Linked DNA regions of Homo sapiens: region 2 is linked to region 1. The links come from fine-mapping of genetic effects on gene expression. Tissue or cell type: whole blood. Region 1 holds a variant in brackets; the other region holds the start of a gene. All regions are shown on one strand. Distances are between the middles of the regions.

Region 1 (5,357 bases):
TGACTTTTGCTTATTTACCAAAAGAGGATGCTTATTTTATTTTATTTTATTTCAGATGGAGTCTTGCTCTGTCTCCCAGGCTGGAGTGCAGTGGCGGGATCTCGGCTCACTGCAACCTCCACCTCCTGGGTTCAAGCGATTCTCCTGCCTCAGCCTCCTGAGTAGCTGGGATTACAAGTGTGTGCCACCACACCTGGCTAATTTTTTGTATTTTTAGTGGAGACGGGATTTCACCATGTTGGCCAGGCTGGTCTCAAACTCCTGACCTGGTGATTCACCCGCCTCAGCTTCCCAAAATGTTGGGATTATAGGTGTGAGCCACCGCGCCCGGCCCAGGAAGATGCTTATTTAGAGATTGGTCACATGTGAAATAAGGTGAGGGTACATGTAAAATATGTTGGATAGAGGGACAGCAGATGTATTTTTTAAGATTATTTGATTCTTCTGGACACAGTTCTTGCATTCACATTCTTGCAGTCTGTGAGGATGATTTGAAAAAACCTTGATAGCCTTTGTGCCATGCCCCAGATGCTGCAGGCCTGGGTTTTAGTCCTTAGCACAAAGCATTAGTAGAGAAGCCCTTAACTTCCTGACTTTCAGACTTCCCCTGGGTTCTTCACTGTCTCCGAAGTGCCCAAGGAATAGAATTTATGGGTAAATGCCATGTTTTGATATTTACAAGTTGGCAAATACAAGCAGCAATTTGATTGTCATAGATATTAATCACTTGGCTACCAGTATATAAAACATCGTTGAAAATCTTTAACTTAAGAGAATAATAACAGTAAGAAAACCCCACTGTTCTCTGTTTCCCTTTCTTCAAGAAGGATGAGGGGGGCGGGGGGATGGGTCAGAAGCGCTGGTGGAGGTTATGTCTGGTGGTTGGTGGAATGTGCTCTTGAGAAGACCAGTTTTAAATATCTTTCAGTCCTTTTTTTTTGTTGACTGGCTGTCAGGAGCTGGGAAGATAGCCAAGAAGGAAATGACACATCGAGAGGCATTTTGTGTTGTGCAACATTCTGTGGAACTGATGCAAGGATATATGGCCTGTTTACACATTCCTTCGCTCGCAGACTGCATGGCAGTAATTTAATTCAGCAGCACATGGCATGCTGCAGCAAGGAGCTATGGCATTAACATCCTTTCATGGCAAATTATCACAGCCGTTAAAACATGCTCGTGTCCCTCCTTTGCACTCTTCCCTGGCTTCCCAGCTCTGAATATGCGTTTTCATTGTATTGGACTTGTGTTAACAAGGTGCTGTAGCTTTCACAGCAAGAGCACAGTTTCCACATGCATATGTTCCAGTTGATATATTTACTTCTAACTAAATATAGCATGGCAAGTTTTCAAGTGATATGTGTTCTAAAAACACATACATGCTTGATCCAAATGTGTCAGTAGTTTGTATCTTAGTGTAAGTCAGAGATCATTCATTCTGAAAATAGTGTTAGGGACTTGACAGGGACTTGAGAGAAAGAGGTTCCCCTCCCCCCCTTTTTTTGTCTCTCTTTTTTTTTTTTTTAAATAATAATGACCTTTCGTTCTCAAGAAAGATAATTCCTGATAGATCACTGAAATATTCTGTTCACCTCTATTTTGTTTGTGCCATGGCAATTTCTTCAAGGAAGACTAGACCAGTGAATAGGACATACTTAAAAATAGCAGGGAAAAAAAAGATTTGTTGTATTGCTTTTCCCATTCATACCTGTCCATACCTAGCATTTTTATAGGATACATTTATGATGTCAACTAAAGAACATCTTTGGCCTTCACATAAAATCTCTAAAGTTTTTATTTAAGCAGGTATAAAAAATAATTAATTGCTCTTGTTTGTTCAAGTAATTTTGGAAATTAAGAAAAGGCATAAAAACCATTTAGGTCTAAAATATTAATTCAAGATCATATGTAACAGTTAAAATAAAAGACTGTGTTTGTAAGTAGCAAAGGAAGGGCTCCAGTTCTCATAATTTCTCTGCTACTGCACACTGGTGGTGAAAATCTATTTGTTGGAAGACCAAAACTCTTCATTAAAATTTAGGTTTAAGGCTTAAACCCAAGCACCCCTGGAAAAGGTAACTCAGACTTAAATTCTTATTAAGATAAAAACAAGTGAC[A/G]TAGAATCATTTTTTGGGAAGTAGGTTTTGGAAGATAGGGGAGGAGTGGTCAGTGAAATCCTGGGTACTAGAAAGTAAACAGTGAGTGGCAGTGTGCAGCAGGCAGGACCTTTGCCGGCCTTGAGGCCAGTGGTTGCCAACTTCAGGCATCACAGTTTTGCTGCAGGTCAACTGTAGCAATGAGCATTCCTGATGCTTTCCAGTTCTGATATACTCTTAAGAGTGCAAGATTTTGTTATTGAAAGGTGAGAGTTTTAGGGTTCTGTATTTCCATATCTCTCTCTTTTGCAAATGTTTTCCTTTCAGAGTATTCCTTTTCTGTTGTTCTAGATACATGCTAGCTTTCCTACTCTATTGGTTTGCAAGTTATCATTGAATGTGTTTCTTTTATTTTAGTATTATCTTTACCATTTTAATATGTATATTTGTCTTATTAAAATTAATCATGATCTCTGTCCATACAAGAACTTTAGCATTCTTTAAACTGCAGTCTCACCCCCTCTCTTCTAATGTCGTTATCTGATATTTTAGTAGATCCTTGTTTTATATTTCCTGGATTAGTCATTATCGGTGTTTAAAAAATGTTTATACTTGTATTTATCCATTATGTTTATTGATTCATTTGCTTATCATTCCTTCTTTCACCTTAGTTCTTCCTTTTAAGTTGAGTTTGCTTTTTTCTTGATGTAGATCCTTCAGTAATTCCTTCAATGAGAAACTGTTAGTGTGAAACTCTCAGAGAGTTTTTATTCCTGAAAATGTTAGCAGTTGTGTGTGTTAGCTGCTGCCAACATGCGGTGATGTGAGAGGCGTTCTGCTGAAAGCCTGTCTGCTTTGAGTGCCTGAGATCCACACTTCCAGTCATTCCTTTGTATTGAAACTTTCAGGTCATTATTATCAGGTTAGCTGGAGTAGTATTTAAGGAAATGGAACACAGGACAGATAATATTCATGAAAGATGGTGGAAGGGAAATGTTTCTAAGCTCCTGTCACTCTGGAGAACTCTGGAGAGGTCTAGGGTCAGTGAGTGGGGAGGAGGTCAGAGGGAATGTTCCTGCAGAGGAGAAAGCAAACGGGGAGGAAATTAAATCCCTTATTTTACACTTTTGCCATGGGCAGGCACTGAGTTGCTTTGGAACTTTTTATCCAAATTTATGTTAAAGAACTCCACCATTACACTTGCTCTGCAGAGGTCATGTGGCTGTTGCTCCCTGAGCAACCGGAGCAGGAATCCTTAGATATTGGTGTCCACACGTTTCTGTCATTTTGGTGAGAGTACAGGACTCAGAACCACAAGAGCTGTCTTTTGTAGGGTAAACGAATCAACGAATTAAGAAGAGGGAAGAAAATAATGTGTGGACTAGAGGAACATGGTTTAAAAGGGCCAGGAGACCACGATCTGGGGTGAGACTAGCTCTGGGCAAGGTGGATGGGGTGACTCCAGTGCTGGCTCGGTGTGTGTCTTCCTGGGGTTGTGCAGTAGTTGGCAGGTGGGGAAGACATCAGATGACACTGAAGCAAGCTGGTGCTTTCTGCCTTGCCGTGAACTCTCAGAATGCATATGCACCCTCCACAACATGCATTCTCATCTTCTCATTTACCTCCTTGGAGTTAAATTTTATGAGATACAATCTGGGTAAAAACGCTAGCATGTATTTTGGTTGCGGGGGATACTCAGGATGATTAATCTGGGCCTTATGCCTCCTTAGGATTGGCCCAGGAAATTATTAGTAGGCAAAGATGGGCCCTTCAAGGAGATGATGAAGGTACCAAATGCAGGTTGTTCTACAAGAAGTGAGGAGAAATATAGATGTGTAAAAAGAAGGGTGAGTGTGAAGTCTGGGTTACTAATTCTAGAGCTTTGGTTTCTGTTTCACCCCCTCACTGTTTACTCCAGCCTACAAAAACAAGTGACAATGTGTTTTCTACCATGAAGGCTATTTCAGAGTAGCTTAACAGGGAATTAATCTGTAAGGGTAGTTTGTGTTTAAGAGGTGGATTCCCTTATGGCTAAGGGGATTGGAGGACTCAGGAATTCTTCTTTTGAGACCTCATTGCCATCTTTGTGACCTTAAGCAAACCACTAAACTTTTCTCTACTTCTATTTCTTCATCTTTCAAATGGAAATAGACATGAAGGCAACTTCACAAAGTAGCTGGGAGTAACTCCTAAGGAATGATCATAAAGTACTTGGCACACATGAAGGGCAGCTTAAATACCAATTAGTAATTATGTAGCGCCTTTCTGCCAAGGAGTTCCAAATGCTTAGACATTACCTCAGTGATTCTCTGTACATCTCTCTGAGGGAGGCGTTATGCATTTTACACATAGGTAAACTGAGGCATGGACACCTGAGAACTCATTTGTCCTATGTTACTCTGCAAGTCAGCAGATGATTTATAGAGACAGGCAAGGATTCCAGATATTTTCCTGTTTATCCTGTTGCCGTTTGTCAAGTCTGTGTAAGTGTTGGGCCCAGGGGATTCTTGGTTGATGTGATGAAGCAGTGTTACATAAGAAGCATGCTTAATGCTGCAGTAGCATCGCTGAATAGTACAGAAGTCAAAGTTATAAGGCCTGGCACAGAGTGGGCATGCAGTTCATGGACATAGGCATGTTTGTTGAATGAGTATTGAATTCATTTTAACAGCTGAAAACACTGAATTTTGTGAGATGAAAATAATACATTGTATAACTTAACCTCAATAGAATCTTACTTTGAATACCAGTGAAATGAATTTAGTACTTAAAAAAAATTAACTTTAAAAAATTGCACAAGTGAAAAAATTGCACACTAGAAAATAAAAACTAATAATAACAAAGAAGAAGACAGAGATCACTCATAATTGCATCTCCCAAGATTACCACTACTAACATCGTGATGTGTATCTCCCAGATATTCTGTGATAGATAATGCTGGTACTGTTATGAAAGATAACAGAAGTTGGGGAAATAACATCAGGAAAATGATGGAATGCTACAGAATGGCATGACCACATTGAAGCTCAAAGGAGAGCGAATAACTGGAAATGAGGATAATTGCTGTAAGGAAAAGGAGCATGACAATAGAACCGACAATTGTTTCCAGTTAATGGCTGCCTCTGTGATGTGAAGGGCCTGTGCTGCCTGAATGATGTGGGACTAGATGGATCTGAGAAAGATCCGTTCCTCCCCCAACCCTGTCCCACCACTGAAAATACCATCTCCCTTTAAAATAGCTGACAGAGCCTTTTTTTTGGT
Region 2 (5,357 bases), 120 kb before region 1:
ATAAGAAACAGTCACATACCAAGATGAAACAATAAGTTAAAAACTTCCTTCGTAAAACCTCATAATCAGAACATTTTAAGCCAAATTAGGACTTCTAAAGTTTAAAAATTCCTGCATCAAACCATTTTCTCCTTTGTTTTTCAAAGAATGAGCAGCAAATAAAAGAATAGAGTTAGCAGCAAATAAGTCTAAAATAATCCTTAAAAAAATGCATAGAAATGAGCACAATATTGATAAAGTAAAACTAATGTATTAAAATATGATCATTAGTTAAGAAAATAAAAAATTACTCAAATGGTTACAATGAAGACACACATAGCATTTAAACACAAATACCTTGGTATTTTCAAAAGTTCAACCAATTCTAACACATTTTATTCACTACAAAGCAATGGAGAAGCAAGATACCAACAACTTTTTTTCTTTGAAATTGATTTCAAGATCAAAACTGTATTTCATTTCCATGGCATTAAAGTATGTGATTTATACAGTATACCTAAACTTGTTGCTTACTTCAAAACAGCAAATACTAACATGTCCCCAGAGAGGATAAAATTTTATGGGTCTTTAAAAAGCAAAAATAAAAATAAAAATAAATCTGTGGTTTTCAATTTCTGATTATAACCATGGTATAAATCTATAATCAAGAGCTTTATTTGCATTGACTTTTCTAAATCAGTATCTCTTCACCACGTGTAGTAAGCTATTTCTAATGAAACACACTGTTATCAAATGTGTACCAATTATCAAATGTGCCCCAGTTGTCATTGTTTTTTAAATTTTTACAACAAAGTAATATTTGCTCCAAAGAGGATATATTTTCGTTTTAGGAAAAAAATTCATGTGGATAATGAATATACTAACTTAAAGCACATGATTTCACTATCTTTCTCCTGCTAGAATTTGATAGGCCTCACAGAGGACAAAAAGTGCATATATAACAATATCTACTAAACTCTCAAATCCTGGTCCAAAAATTACATGCAGGAGGATTACCTGCAAAAAGTGAACAGGTAATTAAATGACAAATAGATGTTAAAAATTACTTAAATTCTTATCAGGTCAATTTGAAGAGCCAAAGTTTACATAAAGAAGATTTTAAGGAAGAAAATAGCAAAATGTTGGGTTTGTAAGATGTTTCAGTGAATGCTAATGTAGAAACTATAAGCTTATTTGAAAAGAAGAAAACCATTTGCTGATCATACTACAGCAGCTACCTACATATTTTCAATTAAGTGATTCTGCTATTATAGGTACACATGAAACCATGTTTGGAAATCCCACAAGCTATAAGGACAAAACCCTCCTTTTGTTTACTTTGGATACTAATTAGAGATACAGATAATATGGATACGACTTATTTATAAAAGAGAAAAAATAATTTTTCTCTCCTTCACATGAATAACTGCATGTTAAATGAACGCTTTTACCTTTCAATGTAAAATCTGTTTACACATACAATAAGGCATGATAAATCCATAGTTAAAATAAAACACCAAAATGTATTTCTGGTTTTTTATCACTAAAAGTTTATTCTGAAAAGGTTCTGGACATTTGAAAAATAAAGGACTAGAATCATTCCCATACCCTACCAGTGTATTTTGGGAAAATCAAATTTTCTGTAAAGAAACTTATGAACATATTTGTACAGTTATTGTGATCTAATATGAACCAAAAGCAGATAATGAATAGCACTAGGAAGAACACAGGGATATTTTAGTTCTAACACCCTCCTGTCTCCCTAGCCCTTACCTCCCTGCACATTCCAAATAATCTTTTGTAATTCACTGTCTCCGCCCACCCCATTTACTTTATGCCACTCCTAGTTACTGTCACACTAGGAAGAAGTCTAACATGCAGATTTAGAGTGGCATGGATAAATGGCAAAAAAATGCCTAGAAAATTGGTCTGTTCGCCTTTATAATTTTGGTTGAAAAATACTCCATCGCTCCCAACTGATGAAAACAGGAAGCTCTATTCATAAATATAAAATTCACTGCCTATGATATATAATCATCCTAATAAGAAAATGAGTTCTATACATACTTGTCCAAAGGGGCAAAAAAGGAGATAGTTTCCCAAAGATGTTTCCAATTTTCTTCTGAATCAGAATTAGCAAATCGAGACGACTAACATACTCTGTCTGTGGGCATTATTCCTTACTACACACAGCATTTTGTAATTTATTTCAAAGCTTCCATTAGAAACAAAAAAATACATAGCTTCTGTTAACCCACTCTATTCTAAGCTCATAGAATCAAATACTGAACAATCTACATTATAACATAAGCATTTTACTTTATAGAAGATCTGCTATCAGAAACTCTATTAATGTCTAAACTACTTAAAGAACTATATAAACTGAATACACTTCAATGAAAGACAAAAAATATTACAATCATAAAGAAAACTAAGATTCATCCAATAAACTATATTACAATCCCTGTCATTCATTTTTTTAAGATCTTCAAACTAGGCATGAGATAATGGTATACATGAAACATTACATTTAATCTTTATTGTAAAGGCCGCCATCTAATAGATTGATAATAAACTAGACAGACGTGATTTAAAATTTGTAAAAGAATGCCCAGACTAACACTTTCATGACAGCCAATTATAGTCAAGCCTAGCAAGCAGTTTGCAACCAGACCTTAAGGTAAACTTTTTTTTTTTTTACAATGAGTTACAGATTCACAAGTTTAAGAAGACAAGAAAAAGGAAAACAGAAGGAATCCAGCCACCCAGCAAATATGAAGCAGACCCCAGAATGTGATACAGTCCAAAGATGTGAATTATTGTATATCATCACTGTTGTTCAGAATTTCACACAGACTCTTGAGCCAATTTTGTTCATTTTTCCACAGACACAATAATGAACTAAAAAGAGGAGGCAAAAAGGCAGAGGTTGAGCGGGGAGTAGAAAGGAAAGCCCTTAACTGCAGAGCTCTGCTCTACAAATGCTTAACCTTACAGGAGTTTGGGCTCCTTCAGCATTTGTATTCTATCCAAATCCTCATGAGTCACAAAAATTAAAAAGCTATATCCTTCTGGATGCCAGGAAAGGCCTTACCACAAGCCTTTTGTGAGAGAAAGAGAGAGAGAGAAAGAGCAAGGGGGAAAAGCCACAGTGGTAGGCAGTCCCACTTTACTTAAGAGTACTGTGAGGTCACAAACCACATGATTCTGCCTCTCCAGTAATAGTGCTTGCAAAAAAAAGGAGTTTTAAAGCTTTTGCTTTTTTGGATTGTGTGAATGCTTCATTCGCCTCACAAACAACCACAGAACCACAAGTGCGGTGCAAACTTTCTCCAGGAGGACAGCAAGAAGTCTCTGGTTTTTAAATGGTTAATCTCCGCAGGTCACTACCAGCCACCGAGACCAACAGAGTCAGTGAGTGCTCTCTAACCACAGTCTATGCAGTAATAGTAGGTCCTTCAAATATTTGCTCATTCTCTTTTTGTTTTGTTTCTTTGCTTTTCACATGTTACCAGCTACATAATTTCTTGACAGAAAAAAATAAATATAAAGTCTATGTACTCCAGGCATACTGTAAAACTAAAACAAGGTTTGGGTATGGTTTGTATTTTCAGTTTAAGGCTGCAAGCAGTATTTACAACAGAGGGTACAAGTTCTATCTGAAAAAAAAAGGAGGGACTATGGCATCAAACAGCCTCTTCAGCACAGTGACACCATGTCAGCAAAACTTCTTTTGGGGTAAGTGTTACCATTTTTAAAATCCTGTAAGATATGAACCTGTTAAACATAAAGGTATGATTCTTTGATAAACTGCTAGCTTTTCCAAATAGCATATTAAAGATCCTAATTATGCTATCTTGTTGCATTAAGAATTGAAAAATGAAATTTCTGTATATATTTGCATTTGGTATCTGTAATGTATCTAATTTTCAAAGTAATGACTTGAAATATACAAAATTAAATTATCTCACATTGATCAAAATGTTTTCTAGAGTTATAGAGGTGAGGATATGAAAACAGTAAAAGAAACAGTTTAATACTCTCATTAACCCTCACCAGAAGAAAAGTCAGATCCTAAATTAATCAAAGCATTATAAATTATTGACTCCGGCAGCTCCCAATATTTGAGCAAACTTCAAAAAGGAAGCAATTTTACAAAATAACAGACCACAGAATTATCTCAACATTATGGTCTACCATGTATAACACAGAAATAAACCTGTAGTACAGTTAACATTTTAACCAGCTCAACTAAAAGAAATCTACTTATAAATTCAAACTGTATCCTATCTAAATAAGTTTGTTTCTAAACAACTTTATATAAGTATACATTCAGCTGAAATAAAATTATGATAAGCACATCACAGCCATTTTTAAAAGATCTTTATAGTTGCCCAGGATATTAAAAAGTTCATGGAAGTATTTTAAAACTTACATGCAACTGCATTTTTCTATGTAATTTTAATTTTACATCTACACACTGTTATCCATAGACCTTGTTATAAACACACTGAAACACTGAAACGTCTAAGATTCTTTTAATCACATTCTTGGACCTACCAAAATGAATAACTGCTGTTTAGTCTCATGAAAAATAAAGCTCCATAAGGATACCCTGTATGATTTTTAAAAGCCACAACTATTAAACCATGCTGGACTTTAAAAGAAGTAGGCATAATCTTGTCCCTTAATATTTAATTTCAAGTTACTGTTGATACAGATATGTAAATGACTTTAACATTCATCAGCTGATGTGTTATTATAGCAAAATATCTAAACACACTTACAAGATTCTCTTTATGATCTCCAACATGTTCCAACTACAAGGCAAGTTTTCAAAAATTTTTCTTATATCCATTAAAATAAACCTTCTTGCTGTGTACATCTATATTAACTCTGCTTTTAACTTACAACTAATGACTGGAGTTTCCTTTACTCCTCCTACTTCACACATTTTAACTGGATACTACTAGAGGATCAGTCTCAGTTTAGGTCAAACAGAAATAATTAAACCTGAAGGGAGAAAAAATGGTTTCTCTTACAGGGTGAGGAAATGTACTTTGTATTTTACAAAAAAAAATGTAAAATTGCTTTAGTGACTCCCTCAATAGCTGTAAGTGGGCCCCCTCAGTTATAATATATACAATATAATAATCACAGATTAATTTAAAATTTTAATGATGGGTACCAAGTATTACTCTAAAAACTTCTATATTAAGGAAGCAGGACATAAACACAGCTAGACTACATTACAACACATAGCATAATTACAGCTTATACATCGAAAGTTTTGTTACTACTACCCAAGAGATAAAAGGAAAAAGAATAGTTAAAACTACTGTTACACAGAGGGATAACTTGAAACAGGGATAACAGAG

Evidence for each region. PIP is the estimated chance that this variant, and not a neighbour inherited with it, causes the effect.
Region 2: it holds the start of RUNX2, and the variant in region 1 is fine-mapped to the expression of RUNX2 in whole blood (TOPMed, PIP above 0.99).

The regions. Positions count from the first base shown.
Region 1 is chr6:45,444,991-45,450,347 of GRCh38, forward strand. The region is part of intron 5 of RUNX2 (RUNX family transcription factor 2); the gene reads left to right. Among named protein-coding and RNA genes, the nearest start is that of SUPT3H, 70 kb to the left of the region's middle. RefSeq lists an enhancer at 958-1,459. The variant A/G (reference allele first, on the strand shown) is at 2,118.
Region 2 is chr6:45,325,068-45,330,424 of GRCh38, forward strand. It overlaps RUNX2 (RUNX family transcription factor 2), which reads left to right and starts at 3,263. Exons shown (of 9, transcript NM_001024630.4): 1 at 3,263-3,393; 2 at 3,594-3,717. The coding sequence starts at 3,660. The region is part of intron 2 of SUPT3H (SPT3 homolog, SAGA and STAGA complex component); the gene reads right to left. RefSeq lists a cis regulatory region at 1,981-1,987, a promoter at 2,945-3,585 and an enhancer at 2,992-3,032.